Linked DNA regions of Homo sapiens. The protein of the gene in region 1 interacts with the protein of each later gene in a pairwise test. Each region holds a gene or a part of one and is shown on either strand. Other genes may lie near its edges.

Evidence for each region.
Region 2: the proteins of ENG (region 1) and ITGA5 interact in binary tests that used the Homo sapiens proteins (3 or more experiments, as listed by UniProt).

Annotation. Positions count from the first base shown.
Region 1 is NC_000009.12:127,851,659-127,858,741, reverse strand, and holds the start of ENG (endoglin isoform 1 precursor), read left to right. Parts: upstream 1-4,083; 5' UTR 4,084-4,386; coding exon 4,387-4,453; intron 4,454-5,791; exon of another isoform or gene 5,792-5,864; intron 5,865-5,998; exon of another isoform or gene 5,999-6,057; intron 6,058-6,449; exon of another isoform or gene 6,450-6,539; intron 6,540-7,083. UniProt on the Homo sapiens protein: Vascular endothelium glycoprotein that plays an important role in the regulation of angiogenesis. Required for normal structure and integrity of adult vasculature. Regulates the migration of vascular endothelial cells.
Region 2 is NC_000012.12:54,393,005-54,405,061, reverse strand, and holds the end of ITGA5 (integrin alpha-5 precursor), read left to right. Parts: intron 1-167; coding exon 168-359; intron 360-488; exon of another isoform or gene 489-564; intron 565-586; coding exon 587-632; intron 633-815; coding exon 816-917; intron 918-1,095; coding exon 1,096-1,151; intron 1,152-1,282; coding exon 1,283-1,437; intron 1,438-1,737; coding exon 1,738-1,875; intron 1,876-2,011; coding exon 2,012-2,079; intron 2,080-2,731; coding exon 2,732-2,882; intron 2,883-2,968; coding exon 2,969-3,061; intron 3,062-3,206; coding exon 3,207-3,286; intron 3,287-3,396; coding exon 3,397-3,477; intron 3,478-3,583; coding exon 3,584-3,689; intron 3,690-4,066; coding exon 4,067-4,216; intron 4,217-5,114; coding exon 5,115-5,198; intron 5,199-5,303; coding exon 5,304-5,417; intron 5,418-6,363; coding exon 6,364-6,465; intron 6,466-7,574; coding exon 7,575-7,697; intron 7,698-8,685; coding exon 8,686-8,769; 3' UTR 8,770-9,801; downstream 9,802-12,057.

The DNA.
Region 1 (7,083 bases):
GCCTGTAATCCCAGCACTTTGGGAGGGTAAGGCGGGTGGATCACTTGAGGTCAGGAGTTCAAGACCAGCCTGGGCAACATGGTGAAATCCCGTCTCTACTAAAAGTACAAAAATTAGCCGGGTGTGATGGTGCATGTTCCCAGCTACTCGGGAGGCTGAGGCAGGAGAATTGCTTGAACCCAGGAAGCGGAAGTTGCAGTGAGCCAAGATCATGCCACTGCACTCCAGCCTGGGTGACAGAGTGAGACTCTGTCTCAAACAAACAAAGATCCTGCCTGATGCCACCTGGCCAGTGTAGGGCAGAGCCTGGGCACCCTGCTCCGCCCTGTGGGTCTGGCCCTGCTGTTATCAATGGCCCCTGGCTCCAGGCCAGTGCTGGAGACAGTCAGCCGCCTGGTGGGTCCCTGGGGGCCGCCTGAAATTCCTTCAGTGGCCAGTGGCCAGGGTGGACGTGCTCTGTCTTTTCCTGCAGCCCTGGCCTTCCTGGCCAGCCAGGAGGAAGAAAGAGCAGAAAGTGTGCATCTGCCCTCTGTGGGGTCCAGGCACAGGGGCCTGGCCATCAGCCACGCGTCTCTCGGGCGTGTGGACAGACGGCACCTGAACACATCCGTATCAGTCAAAGCCCCGGCAGGAAACAGATGGCACGTTCCAGTAGGATCATTAGAGGAGAGTTTGGTGAAGGGTCTGTTTACACAGGTGTGGTCGGGGTGTAGGGAAGCCCCAAGGGACGGTGCAGAACCCCAGGGCTGGCAGCGGCGTGGGCTGTGACCACCCTCAGCCTGAAGAGGCCAGGGGAGGAGCTGAGTCCACAGCTGGACAGAGCTGGGTGGAGGGGGTCCCCAACAGGACCGTGGCCTTCAGTGGAGGGAGGCCACCAGTATGCAGTGACCCTGCAGGGAAGGGGCTGGAAGACGGACCCTCCTCCTCCTGCCTCCTCTGACCTCTGCAGGGGTGGGGAAGTGGATGTGTCCCACAAGAGGGAGAGTGCAGCTGGGGGATGTAGAAGACAGCTACCCCAAGGCCTGTGCCCAGCAGGGAGGCCATGTGGCCACCAGGCTTCCTCGGGCAGGAGACCCAGTCCAGGACTGGCCTTTTCTCCTGGGAACCAATGACAAGGCCCACTTCTCTGGGCCTCCATGACCCCCACCCCTGCCTTGACTTCTAGGGTCCCTCATGCTTTCAGCAAATCCATCTCAAGAGCTGAAAGGCCCTGGGCTCTGTGCTGGGGACACAGCAGTGCAAAGGGTGTCAAAGTCTCTGCCTTCATGGGGCTTCTAATCAAGTAGAGAGATACATGCAGATGGCTGCACACAGGCTTAGGTGTGACAGGGAAGGTCAGGATGCTGTGGGAGCCAGAGGTGACTTCCGCTTCACCCCCCACCCGCGGTGGTCCCAATCTCTTCCTTCCTCCATGAGGTGTCTGGGGTCGGGGCCCCAGTTCTTCCTGGAGTCCATCTGGAGTCTCTCCTACTTTCTAGAGAATCCATTGGGTCTTGTTTACAACGTGGATGGGGACAGACTGTGCAGCGTGGAGGGAAGGGGAGGGAGGGAGTTTTGGGAAGAGCCTCCTGTGGGGTCCCTGTCACTGCCCCAGATGCCCCCAACACCCTGTGATACCTGCAGCCCCTGCCACATCTGTCCCTCACTCCAAACTCAGCTCAGGGGATGGTGGCAGGGAAGGAGGTGAGCTTGGACCCAGGCAGCCCTGGGGTCACCACCCTCCAGCTGGGGTTCCTCCTCTGTAAAGTGGAGGTATAACGGTACCCACCTCCTGGGGTGGCTGTGAGGATTCAGAGCTGATAAGGTGAACGCCTAGGGCGGGCCCTGGTGCAGAGAGAGCGCTCAGCTCCTAGGGCTGGATTAACTGTCCCTGGGGCACAGATCTCGGTCTGGGGCCTGTGGAAACCTCAGAGCCACCCCTGAACCCCCACCGAGCCACCCTTTGCCTCGCAGTGCCCATGGCCTTGTCTCCGAGGTTACAGGAAAAGGCAGAGGAGATGCCCTTCTCAGGGTGGCCCTCTGGGAGAGGACACTCTCCCTTGACCTCAAAGCCACGCTTGGCTGCAAACTGGCCAGGCAGCCACAAGGCTGGGCAAGCAAAACTATCCCTAATCCCCACCCAAAGAGCCACACCGACCCTCCCAGCCGCTGTGACAGCTCCTGCAGAGACAAACACACGGCCTACTCTTGTCACCCGGGCCGGCCAATAAGCACGGAGAGGCAAGGCCTCAGACCCTGGACAGACATCCTCCCTCCAGAGGCACCCAGGGCCTCAGCCTTCTCCTCCCTCCCTGGGCCTCAATTTCTCCACCTGTGACCCAGGGCAGGTGGATCCAGGGAGAAGAACCTTCTGGCTCCATCTCACCGTGGGTCCTGCCAGCACACACAAAGATTTGGCCTCTCAAAGCCTAGCTCTGCCAGCGTCCTTCTGCTCAAGAACTCTCCATGACTCCCAGTGGCCCTAAGGACAAAGTCCTGGCATTTGAGGCCCTCCCAATGCAGGGCCAGACTCTGCCTCTCCAGCTTCCTGTCCCCACCACACCCCTGCTGGTCTCACGGTGGTCCGACTGTTTCCTGCTTCTGTGCCTTTGCTTAGTCTGGCACCCCTGCCTGGCATGCTTTCCTCACCCCTTCTTCTCCCCAATCCCAACTCACCCAGTCTTTCAAAGGGCAGGCCTAAATACCAGGCCCTCCAGGTGGCCCAGGATTCCTTCTCTGAGCTTTCATGGGCCTGGCCCTGGGTGCTACCTGTGAGTAGTCCCACGGTGGGTACATAGTAGGTGCGCTTACTGTTTGCAGAATGAACATGGGACAGTTTGGGGACTGTCACCCAGCTCAGGGAGCACTGATGGGGAAGCATCTCCTGTATGTCCCAGGGCTCAGTGCTGTAGTGTCCTGACCCTCAGAAATCTCATAATGGCTTGGTCAGGAAGGCATCGTGCCCCACTTTGCAAACAGGGGGTGCTGAGAATTGAGGGGCCTTGTCCAAGGTCTCATGGCTAGGAGCAAGCAGAATCGGATTTGAACCCAGGGCCACGTGACTTCAGAAGTGCCATTAAAGTCCCCATAATTTGGAGCTGTCTTCTTTTTTTTTTTCTTTTCTTTTTTTTGAGACCGAGCCTCACTCTGTCACCTAGGCCAGGAGTGCAGTGGTCTGATCTCAGCTCACTGCAACCTCCGCCTCCTAGGTTCAAGTGATTCTCTAGCCTCAGCCTCCCAAGTAGCTGGGACTACAGGCGCACGTCATCATGCCCAGCTAACTTTTGTATTTTTAGTAGAGATGGGTTTTCACCATGTTGGTCAGGCTGGTCTCGAACTCCTGACCTCAAGTGATCCGTCTGCCTCGGCCTCTCAAAGTGCTGGGATTATAGGCTTGAGCCACTACACTCGGCCTGGAGCTGTGTTTTGTCGGTGAAGGATTTTCCACCCATGAAGGGGTCAGACGTGAAGTGTGTGGCCCTGGGCAGCTCCTCTGAGCCCAGAGACGCCAGCCCTAGCCGCCTTGCTGTGCCACTTTGGGACTTCCCTCCCTAGCCTGAGCTTCAGTTTTCCTGCCTGTTAGGCAGCCCCATGTCAACTGCACTTAGTAGGCCGGGTTTGATGCCCGACAAGACGTGAAGTGGTGGAGGTGGGCAGGATCCCAGCGCTACCATCTTCTTGAACCAGTGATCTCAACACATCGGATTTCTGTTTCCTCATCTGCAAAATGGGATCAGTGAGCTCAGGTGGGTCACAAATTCTACAGGAACTACTTTAGCCAAGACCGGCCCCCTGAAAGTTCCCCTCGGTGGGCTGTTAGGGTGATTGTTTTCATCTGTGGGGCTCCCTGATGCGTCCCACCCACCAGCCTTGGAGAGGGTGGGATGGGAGGGTGGGGTGCTTGGGGAGACAAGCCTAGAGCCTGGGCCCTCCCACCCCACTGCCTCCCCCCATCCCAGGGCCCCCCACCCAGTGACAAAGCCCGTGGCACTTCCTCTACCCGGTTGGCAGGCGGCCTGGCCCAGCCCCTTCTCTAAGGAAGCGCATTTCCTGCCTCCCTGGGCCGGCCGGGCTGGATGAGCCAGGAGCTCCCTGCTGCCGGTCATACCACAGCCTTCATCTGCGCCCTGGGGCCAGGACTGCTGCTGTCACTGCCATCCATTGGAGCCCAGCACCCCCTCCCCGCCCATCCTTCGGACAGCAACTCCAGCCCAGCCCCGCGTCCCTGTGTCCACTTCTCCTGACCCCTCGGCCGCCACCCCAGAAGGCTGGAGCAGGGACGCCGTCGCTCCGGCCGCCTGCTCCCCTCGGGTCCCCGTGCGAGCCCACGCCGGCCCCGGTGCCCGCCCGCAGCCCTGCCACTGGACACAGGATAAGGCCCAGCGCACAGGCCCCCACGTGGACAGCATGGACCGCGGCACGCTCCCTCTGGCTGTTGCCCTGCTGCTGGCCAGCTGCAGCCTCAGCCCCACAAGTAGGTGTCCAGGGACCCAGGGTGGGGAGACTCGGCCTCCGGTGCACGGACCAGGCCCCAAGTATTCCCGGCCTCCTTCCTGTATCCTGAGCTCACGCCCAGCAGAGCCATCCTTGGGGCTCTGGAGGGTCACCAACCCTCCCAGTTTGCTGGAACTAAATGGTTATGCAGGACTTTCAGTGTTGAAAGAAAGCCTCGGGCAAACTGGGCTGACTCTTTCACTTTAACCCTGGTCTCTGGCGTCTGCTCACCCAGCTGCGTTCCATTACTCCCCGGGAAGCCTAGGTCCCAGAATGCTGTGCAGCGACGGGAGAGTTTCCTGGCCTCTCTGGGCCTTGAGTTTCCCCATGAGGAATGGATGGGAAGGAGGGCCCACAGCCTGGGCTCTGAGCACCGTCTCTGGGTTCAAATCTCACATAGGCACTTCCTTGTGGTGTGATCCTGGGGGACTGCCTTCGGGCCTCTGAGCGAAGTGGGGAAGAGAACAGACTTCCCTCTCAGAGCTGCTGAGGAGGTGGGTGGTGAGGGATCATTGCAGAGAGGGCTCTGGCAGACTGGCCACTTCTGTGTTGTTTTATTTTTAGCTTTAAGTTCCTCCAGCTCACCTTCCCCAGGGCCTTTGGGCAGCTCCTCAAACCCTTTGAACAGGCCAAGGCTGCAGGGCCCTGCCCTGCCTCCCTCCTACCTCCCTGATCCCCAGAAAGGGTGCAGGAGTGGGTGCAGGCCAGGTTAGGGGTTCTGTGGGGCTCCTTGGCCTGGGGGCTCTTCCAAGGGGTCATGGCCTCTGCTGCTTTCTGAAACTGACCAGAGGAGGGGCGGTGAGGAGCAAGGGACCCCCAGCCCCATGTCCCACTCCCTATCCCTCGGCCACCTCAAGCCGCTGGCCGGTCCTGTGGACATCCTTTGACCCACCTGTGCATCCAGGGGCTTCCTGACAGATTTGGGGGAAGAGGGGCAGAAATGAGCTGAGAGTGTGGGGAGGAAGGGGAAGGAAAACAGCGGTGGGGCAGCCAACTTCTCCCCACCTCCCCACCTGATGGCATTTTAGAGTCCCTGATTCTGGGTCTCTAAAGCTCTGCCCACCACCTGATTGACAGGAAACTGAGTCTCAGACATATTAAGTGACTTAGCAGGGATTTGACTCCCGGCCTGCGGCTCCCTAAATGTTTGCTCCTAGTAAGGTGTGATAGGGCGAACCCTCTTAATGCGGCTCACAACGACCCTGCAAGATGGCTGCCATCATCATCCCCATTTTACAGAAGAGAAAAGGGAGGCTCTAACCTGCCAAGTTCACATGGCTAAGACGGAGCCCCTACCTGAGCTCCAAGATCTCCCTCTCTCGTATTTGTCGCTGCAGTAACACTCTCTTCCTCTTGGTCGTTAGAGAAAGGTCCATGCAGACATTTAGGGCCTGGTTTTAAAGGATCAAAGGCAGTGATATGCTGCTGAATAATTAACAACGGGGTGGGGAGCTCAATTTGTAGCGTTTGTGGATTTTCACAGCGTAAGTACTCCCACCCGGCTGACTTCAAGCCACCAACTCACCAAGTTTGGAGCTGGGAATCAGTGCCCGGTAGCACCTGGCGGTTGGTTCTCCAGAGTCTCTGCAGGCGCAGATCACACCGAGAGCAGAGATGACAGTCAGGGGTGTAAAACGATTAGAAAGAAATGAGTTTGGACATTCATGACCTTTTAAAAATATATAGTAATAGCTATGTAACAGCCAGTTGGAAAAACTCCTGGAAACGTATCCGTCTGTTCCTGTGAGCAGGTAGGAGCTGGTCCCAGTGCACCAGGAGTCACAGGCTCAAAGGTACAACAGACCATCAACCCAACTCATTTATGGTCTGGGAAGCTGAGGCCCATGGAAGGCAGAGGGGAGCCTGGGGCCAGGGCCTGGAAGCCAGCTGGGGGTAGGGGTCGGAGTGACCCTGACCTCCTAGAAATGGGTCTAGAATTTGGGGGCACCACTTGTAAGAATCTCCTAAAACTGTACCTTGCATGTGACTTGATACCCTCACAAATCAGCCTTCAGTAGTCAGCCTTCTAAAGTTATTCGTCCAACTCTGTAAAGATGCGTGGTCCGTGGGTACCTGTAACAAAAACCCGATAACTGGAAATCATCTAAGTGTCCATGAGCAAAGACTGTTAATAAATTACCACACGACGGAATGTCATGCAGCAGGCACCAAGAAGGCAGAGTCATATGAACACTGCCATGGACGGATGTCAGGGACACACTGTTAGGTGCCCAAACAACAATAATTCCATTTTGGCAACAATAAAATAGTAATAATGTACAATATGCACAGAGAAAATTCTGGAATAGAGTTTTCTATTTAACCCACTATTACTGTTCTCTGGTCTGGGGTTTTCTCTGTGGGACTTTCACTTTCTTTTTTAAATTTTTTTGAGACAGTCTTGCTCTTGTCACCCAGGCTGCAGTGCAATGGCACAATCTAGGCTCGCTGCAACCTCCGTCTCCCGGGTTCAAGCAGTTCTCCTGCCTCATCCTCTCGAGTAGCTGGGACTACAGGCGCCGGCCCCACACCCGCCTAATTTTTGTATTTTTAGTAGAGACGGGGTTTCACCATGTTGGCCAGGCTGGCCTCGAACTCTTGACCTCGTGA
Region 2 (12,057 bases), on another chromosome or scaffold:
TTCCCGAGGGGTTAAAATCCCACTGTCTGGGTCTTGGGATTTGAAGATTAGAATATAGGGACTGACAGATGGGAAAAAATAGGATCCTAGGTCCTGGGGTCTGGTAGTAGAGATTAGAGCCCATGGATTCCTGGCCTGCTGACTAGTGTGTGTTCTGTGTCTTCCAGATGTGGCCATCGGGGCTCCCTTTGGTGGGGAGACCCAGCAGGGAGTAGTGTTTGTATTTCCTGGGGGCCCAGGAGGGCTGGGCTCTAAGCCTTCCCAGGTTCTGCAGCCCCTGTGGGCAGCCAGCCACACCCCAGACTTCTTTGGCTCTGCCCTTCGAGGAGGCCGAGACCTGGATGGCAATGGATATCCTGGTGAGTTGTGCCTGAGGCCCCTTTTCACCTTAAAATTCCCTGGTCACTGACCCCTACTCTCTCTTCTGCACCTTTCCTTAAGTTCCTGGGTGCAGTTCTGGCTAATTCCAACAGAGGGCGCTGTCTTCTCACTTCAACCTCCCTGAGCGTTGAAACCAGGAGGGGTTAGGAAGAAAGGATCCTGATCTGGGGCTTGCTGTAAGAGGTGATTTCTTGACTTCTTACAGATCTGATTGTGGGGTCCTTTGGTGTGGACAAGGCTGTGGTATACAGGTATGAGCTCCAAAGGGAGATGAGGGGACAACCTGGGTGGACTGGAACTGGAAATTTCTCAACAGAGCTGAGGTTGGGAAAATCAATGCAGAGGACACACATTCTGGCGCTTGGGCATCAGTTTCCTGTGTCCAGGTTACAGAGGAGTCCTAATTCTATTGACCCCACATTCACTCTTGGCAGGGGCCGCCCCATCGTGTCCGCTAGTGCCTCCCTCACCATCTTCCCCGCCATGTTCAACCCAGAGGAGCGGAGCTGCAGCTTAGAGGGGAACCCTGTGGCCTGGTGAGCTGGTGCCCAGGAAATTGCAGAGACCTGAGCCTGGGAGTGGGCAGGGGCACCAAGTCTGCCTTAAAAAGGGGAAAATGGTGGTGTCCTAGTCTGGGTCTGGCTGGGAGATAGGTAGAGGATAGGATGTCTGTTCCAGTTGGATTCACCAGCTTTCTTCTTGGTCTCTCTCCAGCATCAACCTTAGCTTCTGCCTCAATGCTTCTGGAAAACACGTTGCTGACTCCATTGGTGAGGGAGACTGCCTGGATCTCTCAGGCCCTAGGACAGAGAATGAAGGGACTGGGGACCTGGGGACATTTCTTCTCTCTGAAAAGATGAGGAAAGACAGGCAGTTTCCCTTTATATGTCCCTGGCTTCAGGTTTCACAGTGGAACTTCAGCTGGACTGGCAGAAGCAGAAGGGAGGGGTACGGCGGGCACTGTTCCTGGCCTCCAGGCAGGCAACCCTGACCCAGACCCTGCTCATCCAGAATGGGGCTCGAGAGGATTGCAGAGAGATGAAGATCTACCTCAGGGTATGGCCCAGAGGGCGGGGTGTGGACTGGCCAGGGAGGGTGGCCACACAGAACTGAGGGCACCTCCTGAAGGGAAAAAGACTGGGGGACTCCAGTGAAGGGCTTGGGACTCTTGTAGGGGCTGAGAAAGGGAGACCTTCTGTCAGAGGAGCTGGGAAGCAGGCTGCCAGGGCCTCTGAAACAATGAGGATGGTCGGAATTGGGCCCTAAGCAGACAAAGGGAGATGAGAGAGGCTGAGGAGCAGGGCCACTAAGTCTCCAGAGTCCCCTGACTCCGTGAACTCTCTCCTCTGGCCCCAGAACGAGTCAGAATTTCGAGACAAACTCTCGCCGATTCACATCGCTCTCAACTTCTCCTTGGACCCCCAAGCCCCAGTGGACAGCCACGGCCTCAGGCCAGCCCTACATTATCAGAGCAAGAGCCGGATAGAGGACAAGGTGAGGACAGGGCAGGGAGAAGGGACCTGGGAAGACAGAGGCCTGGGTATTGGGGGGGCAGGGCCATGGAAAGAGAAGAGCCTACAGCCCAGGAATGGGTCTAAACTTCCCCTCTCAAGGCTGCCCTGCTCCCCAGGCTCAGATCTTGCTGGACTGTGGAGAAGACAACATCTGTGTGCCTGACCTGCAGCTGGAAGTGTTTGGGTAAGTAGGGCTGACGGTAAGCTAGGGAGCTCCAGGTGCACCTGGCACCTGAAAAAATCAGCTAGGGACATACTAGCTGTGTCGCCTTGGGAAGTTGCTGAGCTGCTCTGAGCTTTAACTCCTTTGTCTGTATAGTGGGAATAGTAGCATTTATTTCTCAGACTTTTTGGAAAGATTAAATGAAATAATCTACATAAAAAATCTAGCCTAGTGCCTGCCATAGAGTTAGAACTCAGTAAGCAGTGTCTATTGTTACTTTATTATTACTCTTTTTTTTTTTTTGAGACGGAGTCATGCCCTTGTCACCCAGGCTGGAGTGCAGTGGCGCAATCTCGGCTCACTGCAACCTCCGCCTCCCAGGTTCAAGCGATTCTCTGCCTCAGCGTCCCAAGTAGCTGGGATTACAGGTGCCTGCCACCATGCCGGGCTAATTTTTTTATTATTATTTTTAGTAGAGACAGGGTTTCATCATCTTGGCCAGGCTTGTCTTGAACTCCTGACCTCGTGATCCACCCGCCTCAGCCTCCCAAAGTGCTGGGATTACAGGTGTGAGCCACCACACCCGGCCTCGTATTACTACTCTTATAATGGTCCTTTGTCCTGGTTTGAGGATTAATTCACCAATGTCCCTTACCCTCTGTGTCCCTTCCAGGGAGCAGAACCATGTGTACCTGGGTGACAAGAATGCCCTGAACCTCACTTTCCATGCCCAGAATGTGGGTGAGGGTGGCGCCTATGAGGCTGAGCTTCGGGTCACCGCCCCTCCAGAGGCTGAGTACTCAGGACTCGTCAGACACCCAGGGGTGAGATGAGACTCTCGAGTGGGATTTGGGAGGATACCCCTCTAGAGGGGACACCAAAACCTGACCAGTGCCCACCCCATCTCCAGAACTTCTCCAGCCTGAGCTGTGACTACTTTGCCGTGAACCAGAGCCGCCTGCTGGTGTGTGACCTGGGCAACCCCATGAAGGCAGGAGCCAGTGTAAGTTTGGGATGAAAGAGGATGGGACAGAGGGAGAGCAGACCTGAGGGCGGTAACCAGCCAGCCGAGAGCACAGCTGTGAGGTGCGGAGGGAGGGTGAAATACACAGTCTAACTGCCCTCTTTTCCTCTTTTTCTGTCCCCAGCTGTGGGGTGGCCTTCGGTTTACAGTCCCTCATCTCCGGGACACTAAGAAAACCATCCAGTTTGACTTCCAGATCCTCAGGTAGGGAGTGAGTGTGTCTAGGCTGGGGCTGAGCTGGGGACGGAAGGGAGGGCTGGGCGCCATTCTCACTGGCTGCACTCCAGCACCTCAGTCTTGCCTCCATCCCACAGCAAGAATCTCAACAACTCGCAAAGCGACGTGGTTTCCTTTCGGCTCTCCGTGGAGGCTCAGGCCCAGGTCACCCTGAACGGGTCAGTGCCAGGCAAAATGGGGTCTTTCTGAGAGGGGACACAGACTTCTAGGGAAGGATGCATATGGGGTTCCTTCCACCCTCCTCTAAACCACCCTCCTCCTTAGTGTCTCCAAGCCTGAGGCAGTGCTATTCCCAGTAAGCGACTGGCATCCCCGAGACCAGCCTCAGAAGGAGGAGGACCTGGGACCTGCTGTCCACCATGTCTATGAGGTAAGGGGGGAAGGGGCAGGGCCAGAATGAATGATGGGAAAGGAGGAGCTAATATGAGTGACAGATGGCTGGAACCCATGTGAGGGACTGAGAGAAAGAGAGGAGGGAGGAGTAAGTGATATGCAAAGGCATGAGGCAGAGTCCTGTGAGAAACAGCCAGAGGAGAGACAGGCCAATTGAGTGGCTTGGAAAGAAAGATGGAGCCCCCTCCAAAAGTGTTGGCTAGAGAGGATTTCACCTCTGCCCATTGCTTCCCTGCTTCATCTCTGAGATAGGAGCCTGACAGCAGGGTATAGTGGAGCCATGGTGATCCAGGGTCTCAATGGGGCAGAAGCATTCCCTTCCTTCTCATGATGATTGTGCTCTTCCCTCCTCAGCTCATCAACCAAGGCCCCAGCTCCATTAGCCAGGGTGTGCTGGAACTCAGCTGTCCCCAGGCTCTGGAAGGTCAGCAGCTCCTATATGTGACCAGAGTTACGGGACTCAACTGCACCACCAATCACCCCATTAACCCAAAGGGCCTGGAGGTGAGATCCTGAACACTGGCATGGGGAAGAGGAGCAGATTCAGAGGACCAAGGCTGAGGGGTTGGGGAAGGTTGCTGGGGGCCTGCAAGAGGCAATGAGGATGTGCCTATAGCTAGGGTTGAGGGTCACAAGGCCCAAAGTTACCTCAAAATCCTCTGGAGGAAAAAGGACTTTCATCCACTGTGTTTCTTTCTGCCTGAACTATCCCTTCTTTGTTTCCCGGCATACCCCTAGGGCCCAGTTATGTGCCACCTCCTCTAGGAAGCCTTCTTCAAACCTTTTCCTCTGGGCCCGAATGCCTGTTTTATAGTTCATTTACTCATTAACATCTAATTAAATAAGTGACTGTACTGAACACTGTTAGGCCCAGGAAATATTGCACCAAACAGAACTGACAAGGTCTCCACGTTCATGGAACTTACATTCTAGTGAAGGGTGATAGACATAGAAAAGAAAAAGAGAAGGAGAAAAATTAACAGGGATTGAAAGGTGATGAAGTGAAGAGTTAATAAGCTGTAGGGACACTATTTAAATTGGATCATAGAAAAACCTCTTGAAGACGTCACAGCTGAACTGAGGCCTGAAAGATAAGGTTGAACCTGTCTATAAGACTCAGGGATGAGCATTCCAAACCAAGGGAACATCCAGTGCAAAAACAGGAACACAGACCTAATTATTTACTTAAGCATCTCCTCCAGTGTGATCTCCAAGAACCAAGTTTTCCTCATTTCCATATTTTAACCCTGAGCTCAGTGCCTTGCGCATAGGAGGTGGACAGTTGGATGAATCAATAAAGAGATAGATGAAAGAATAGGTTGAAGCTGCTCTGGAACCCAGGTGCAAGCTGACTTAGAAGCTGTAATGAGATGGGAAAGGGGCCCAACACTTTCTTTTATAGTTGGATCCCGAGGGTTCCCTGCACCACCAGCAAAAACGGGAAGCTCCAAGCCGCAGCTCTGCTTCCTCGGGACCTCAGATCCTGGTAAGTCAGGCAGGGAATGAGGTGTGGACCAAAGTGTTGAGTACTCTGGGGTTCTCAGGGCCATCACAAGGGCAGAACACCAGGTTCAAGCTTCTTTCTTCCTAGAAATGCCCGGAGGCTGAGTGTTTCAGGCTGCGCTGTGAGCTCGGGCCCCTGCACCAACAAGAGAGCCAAAGTCTGCAGTTGCATTTCCGAGTCTGGGCCAAGACTTTCTTGCAGGTGAGGGAGCCTTACCTCAGCCCTGACCCCTGACCTTTGGGCCTGCTTAGACTGACCCACCCCTTTCTCCACTGCAGTAGCCACCTCTCCTTTGGTGAATGGGACCCAGCACTCCAGCTCCCCTTCCTTGCCCTTGTCTAGACCAGGCTGTATGTCCTTGGCGCCATCTAGTGGCCACAGTGGGAGCAGCAGCTTCCCTTTCCTGGCCCATTCAGAGGAGGGAGGGCTGGAGGGAGACCAGTGTGCAAAGAATGATAGAAAAACAGTAAGATGGAAGATGAATCCATAGTGGAGAGGTAAACACATGTAGGAATAGTAAAGAGCAGTCACTTCTTGAGCACACACTGCAGGCTAGGCACTGTCCTGGTGTCAAAGCACATTAATAATTTTAAAAAAATTTTTATTGAACACGTAGTCATCTAATTATATATTATCAAGTTACAATTATTCAGTTACACATTTATTATCTCATATAAGGAACATCAAGAGAAGCTCACGGGCCAGGCACAGTGGCTCACACCAGTAATCCCAGCACTTTGGGAGGCCAAGGTTGGCGGATCCCTTGAGCCCAGAAGTTTGAGACCAGCCTGGGCAACATGGCAAAACTCCACTTCTACAAAAACAAAACAAAACAAAAATTAGCTGGGCATGATGGCACATGCCTGTAGTCTCAGCTACTTGGGAGGCTGAGGCAGGAGGATTGCTTGAGCCCAGGAGGTGGAGGTTGCAGTGACCTAAGCCCACACCACTGCACTCCAGCCTGGGGGACAGAGTGAGACCTAGTCTCAAAAAAAAAAAAAAAAAAAAAAGAGAGAGAGAGAGAGAGAGACTCAGGAAGAATGAGCCCAAAATAGGGAAAGATCACAACCCCAGCCAGACGATGGGGAACCCTATGTCCTCTGGATCCCAAGAGAGGATGTGCTAACCAACTTTCCCCTACCCACAGCGGGAGCACCAGCCATTTAGCCTGCAGTGTGAGGCTGTGTACAAAGCCCTGAAGATGCCCTACCGAATCCTGCCTCGGCAGCTGCCCCAAAAAGAGCGTCAGGTGAGTCTAGGGCCAGAGGACTGGATGAGGGAATACAGGGCTCAGAGTGCTGGAACAGGGCTGGGACTTGGGTGAGGGCTGGCCTTGGTATTGTTAACAACTGTTGAGAATGTACTATGTGCCAAGCACTGTGCAGATGCCAGAGACAGAGTGGTAAGCAAGATCAACATGGTATCTTTGCTCCTGGTGTTCACAGTCTCGTGGAACAACACAGTGTTCCAAGTGTGGTGATATTTATGAAAACACATAATAGGAACACCTGAACCCAGTCTAACTGGGTCAGGGAAGGCTTCCTGGAAGAAGTGATGTTCAAGCTGAGACCTGAAGAATAAATAGGAACTAACCAGGCTAGCCATTCAGGAAAGGGATATCCTGGGGAGAGGTGAATAACAGATATGAGGCTGAGCGCAGTGGCTCACACCTGTAATCCCAGCACTTTGGAAGGCCAAGGCAAGTGGATTGCTTGAGCTCAGAAGTTCAAGATCAACCTGGGCAACATAGTGAGATCCTGTCTCTACAAAAAATACAAAAATTAGCCAGATGTGGTGGCGCATATCTGTGGTCCCAGCTACTCGGGAGGCTGAGGCAGGAGGATCGCTTGAGACCAGGATGCAGAGGTTGTAGTAAGCTGAGATCACACCACTGCACTCCAGCCTGAGTGACAGAGTGAGACTCTGTCAAAAAAAAAAAAAAATGGATATGATATGAAAGCCCGAAAGTAAGAGACAATATTGTACATTTTAGGAACTTCAATTTTTAAGTTCAGAATGCTGTTAGTTCAAAATAAGAGGTGGAGTTGATCTGGAACCCAGACTCAGACATTGGCACCTAATCCAGGCAGATCCAGGACTATATTTGGGCCTGCTCCAGACCTGATCCTGGAGGCCCAGTTCACCCTGATTTAGGAGAAGCCAGGAATTTCCCAGGACCCTGAAGGGGCCATGATGGCAACAGATCTGGAACCTCAGCCTGGCCAGACACAGGCCCTCCCTGTTCCCCAGAGAAAGGGGAGCCCACTGGGCTCTGCAGATCCAATGACAAGTGGGGGCCAAGTATAGGGTAGAAAGAACTTCTGAGCTTTCATTGACTTCACCCAACTTGCTCCCCAGGTGGCCACAGCTGTGCAATGGACCAAGGCAGAAGGCAGCTATGGCGTCCCACTGTGGATCATCATCCTAGCCATCCTGTTTGGCCTCCTGCTCCTAGGTCTACTCATCTACATCCTCTACAAGGTCAGCCACATCCTGCTTGTGACTTGGCCACCCTCTCATCAGGCTCTGCCCTTGACCTGGCACAGTCCCAAGTATCTACCTCTAGACCAGTTCACCAGCCATGTGCCCCCACCTCTGTCCTGGCTACATGCATCCCATCCTAACCCTTCCTATAAGATCCCCCCCTTCATTCTATAGCCCCTAGCTTAGAAAGGGTCCTCTTGACTCAAGATGATAAGTTTGCCTATACTTGCAAAATCATTGGAACCCAAAGATGACAAATACGTGGCATTTGTGCTGTCAATTTCTCCAAAAATCCATGGCAGCCATCACTAACCTAGAAATGGCTACTGATCATCTCCTAGAAGTGGCTTCAGAATCTCTCTCAAGAGGCAGCCATGGCCAGGTGTGGTGGCTCACACCTGTAATCCCAACATTTTGGGAGGCCAGGGTGGGAAGACAGCTTGAGCCCAGGAATTCAAGACCAGCCTGGGTAACACACTAGGACCTTGTCTCTACAAAAAAAACACAAAGATTAGCCAGGTTTGGTGGTGCGTGCCTATAGTCCCAGCTACTCTGGAGGCTGAGGTGGGAGGATCGCTTGAGCCCAGGAGTTTGAGGCTACAGTGAGCCATGATCATGCCACTGCACTCCAGGCTGGTCAACAGAGTGAGACCCTGTCTCAAAAACAAACAAACAAACAGAAGCAGCCACTACTAAGCAATCAGACTTGGCATTTGAGTTCAAACCTATCTGCCATTTCTGGCTTAACTGGGGAATTTTAAAGGCACTGGTAAAAGATACCCCCCATACAAAATCACCCCCAAGTTTGGTCCTCCTGGGTCCATTGCACAACTTAGAGGGGTAGTCCTAGCCTGAATTCAGAGGCCACTTTTGCAGGATGTAGAGGTTGGAGGCACTAGAGTCCTCCTTATTACTTCTTGGAATAAGAGCTGTGGAGAAATGGCAGCCATAGTACCTAAACTCTCCCTCTTTTCCCCTTTATCAGCTTGGATTCTTCAAACGCTCCCTCCCATATGGCACCGCCATGGAAAAAGCTCAGCTCAAGCCTCCAGCCACCTCTGATGCCTGAGTCCTCCCAATTTCAGACTCCCATTCCTGAAGAACCAGTCCCCCCACCCTCATTCTACTGAAAAGGAGGGGTCTGGGTACTTCTTGAAGGTGCTGACGGCCAGGGAGAAGCTCCTCTCCCCAGCCCAGAGACATACTTGAAGGGCCAGAGCCAGGGGGGTGAGGAGCTGGGGATCCCTCCCCCCCATGCACTGTGAAGGACCCTTGTTTACACATACCCTCTTCATGGATGGGGGAACTCAGATCCAGGGACAGAGGCCCCAGCCTCCCTGAAGCCTTTGCATTTTGGAGAGTTTCCTGAAACAACTTGGAAAGATAACTAGGAAATCCATTCACAGTTCTTTGGGCCAGACATGCCACAAGGACTTCCTGTCCAGCTCCAACCTGCAAAGATCTGTCCTCAGCCTTGCCAGAGATCCAAAAGAAGCCCCCAGCTAAGAACCTGGAACTTGGGGAGTTAAGACCTGGCAGCTCTGGACAGCCCCACCCTGGTGGGCCAACAAAGAACACTAACTATGCATGGTGCCCCAGGACCAGCTCAGGACAGATGCCACACAAGGATAGATGCTGGCCCAGGGCCCAGAGCCCAGCTCCAAGGGGAATCAGAACTCAAATGGGGCCAGATCCAGCCTGGGGTCTGGAGTTGATCTGGAACCCAGACTCAGACATTGGCACCTAATCCAGGCAGATCCAGGACTATATTTGGGCCTGCTCCAGACCTGATCCTGGAGGCCCAGTTCACCCTGATTTAGGAGAAGCCAGGAATTTCCCAGGACCCTGAAGGGGCCATGATGGCAACAGATCTGGAACCTCAGCCTGGCCAGACACAGGCCCTCCCTGTTCCCCAGAGAAAGGGGAGCCCACTGTCCTGGGCCTGCAGAATTTGGGTTCTGCCTGCCAGCTGCACTGATGCTGCCCCTCATCTCTCTGCCCAACCCTTCCCTCACCTTGGCACCAGACACCCAGGACTTATTTAAACTCTGTTGCAAGTGCAATAAATCTGACCCAGTGCCCCCACTGACCAGAACTAGAATCTGTGATCTCATGTTACTCTTTCCAAACCCATCCTGGAACCAAGCGACTTGGTGGAAAGCAGATGCCTATTTCTCTCATGGCTTCTTTCCACTAGGAGCCAGAAGTATGACCCCCCAGAAACTGTGAAACTAGTTCTAGGCTCCCTTCTTAGGTGAAAGAGGTGATGGAAGGAGAGAAAGCAGGGCTTGACTCCTCTGCCCCTCCCTCATCCCCCATCAGACCTGGTCCCCAACACTCCCAAGGGAGAAGGGAAAGGAACCTCTTCTCTTTGGGTTTGAGGATTAGAGCAGAATGCAAAGGGGGAGGTCCAAGGTGGAGGTGGGGGAGGATGGTTCAGAAAATTTACCAGGCTTCCCTAAATCAGAATAATGAAATGAGTTGAGAGGAAAAAGCCACGGAACTAAATTAGAAGAAAGCCCAGTTAGGTTTTTGTATTGCTTTGTTTTCATTGCTACTGTGTGCTGGTAGGGGGTGTTAGTTTGCATACATTATCACATTTAATTTCTCACAGAGTTCTGTGAGGTTGGTACTATTTATCCCATTTACACAAAGAGAAACTGAGGCCCAGAGAGGTTACATAACTTGTGCAAAGTCACACAGTGAGTGGCAGAACAGAGTGAAACTCAGCCTTATCTGGCTGGGAAAGCCCGAATTCTTAACCAACATGCCACAGGGTTCAGATCTTTGAAGATAAATCTCGCAAAGTGAGGGACCCTCAGGGTTCTCTTTTCTCCTCAAGGCCTGTCCTAACGGGCAGCAAGAGGGAGAGCAATTGCGGTTGTTGGAGACAAAGATGTCCCTGTCAGGATAGACTAAAATTCAGCCACCAGAGGGCAGCATAGCCACAAATTTATGGGAAATTTGGGAAGGTAGGGTATGAGGTCCACCTCACCCTCTTCCCCCATCACCAGGACTATTCTCATTAACTCAGGCTTCTGCCTAGCAGGGCCTGCATCACCTAAAAATATCCCTCCTGGGAGACCAACCCTGGACCACACTCCAGTCTGTGACTTCTTAGAATGCTCTGAGTCAGGAATGTCTTCACAGAACCCACAAATGAAAAGGGGCTGATGGGGTAGAAGAGACAGGATGAGACAAAGAACCCCCTAGCATTTCTAAGAATGGCAGCCGTGGCATAACAAGGCACCAGAAATTCTAGAGGGAGGAAATCCCATACCTGATACATTAAGAGGAGTCCCCTTCTTGGGAGAGAGGTGGGGGTAGAAGCAGCCAAACTCCAGGGGCCAGACCTAAAATGTCTTCCACTGTTGTGAGGAGGAAATAAGGAAGGGAAGTGGGCTGTGAAAATTGGGCTGGTGTCATGGGTGTGTCACTGTGTAGGGCCTGTACTTTTGAGAGAGTGACAAGTTCTTACCCGTGGATGCACAATATAAGGAAGAAATTCCTTGAGCTCAGAAATGCCACAGATGTAATCTAGTATGAGCCTCTCTTTCCCTGAGCTCTAATTCTCAGACTCCTGGTCTAAGTTTCTTCTCCCAAATCTCCCAACCCTCCGAAGGAAGTGTGGCTCCCACCTTGAGACTTGAATAATCCAGACGAATTTAAGTGTAGGGGGGCTAGAAGGCCTGAGCCCTATCCTTGTCTGTGTTGGTGGAGATGAAAAGGAGAAGGAAAGGAGGCCTTAGGAAGTGAACAGAGCAGCTGGGGGTGCAGGGAGGGGGAGGGGGCTCAGGAGAGGCAGCTGGCAGGCGGGAAGCTGATCTGGGGGTCTCAAGTTTCTTGACATCAATTAGAGCAGCCGGCCTGGGCTCATTAGTAGCCCGGGGTGCAGGGCTCATCAATAATGAATTCACCCCACACACCTTCCCCCCACCCCAGCTGCCTGCAAGGTCACCCCGTCCTCTAGCCAGCTGCTTCCCCTTGGTAAGCTTAAGCAACCCCTCTTCTGAGATCTTCCTAACCCAGAGTCCCTGGGGCAGTGTGGCAGGGTGGACAACAGCTGAGCGCAAAGGGGTCTCTAAAACCAATCGACCATGCCTGATGATGGCTCTTGTTTAGTCTCTGAGTCCACCCAGGAGGAGAAAGAATGGGAAGAGGAAAGGAGGTGCAGGGTCTAAGGAGAAGCAAGGGTTTTTCATACTGGAGTTGACCAGCATGGTGGTAGGTCAGACCCAGAGCAGGAGGACCTCCTCTGATGGACCCAGAAACCCCATATCCTCTCCCAAGGCCAATCCCCTGAGATCTCTGCCCCACTGAATCAGAATGAGACTAAGGCATTGGCACTCCCAGCATT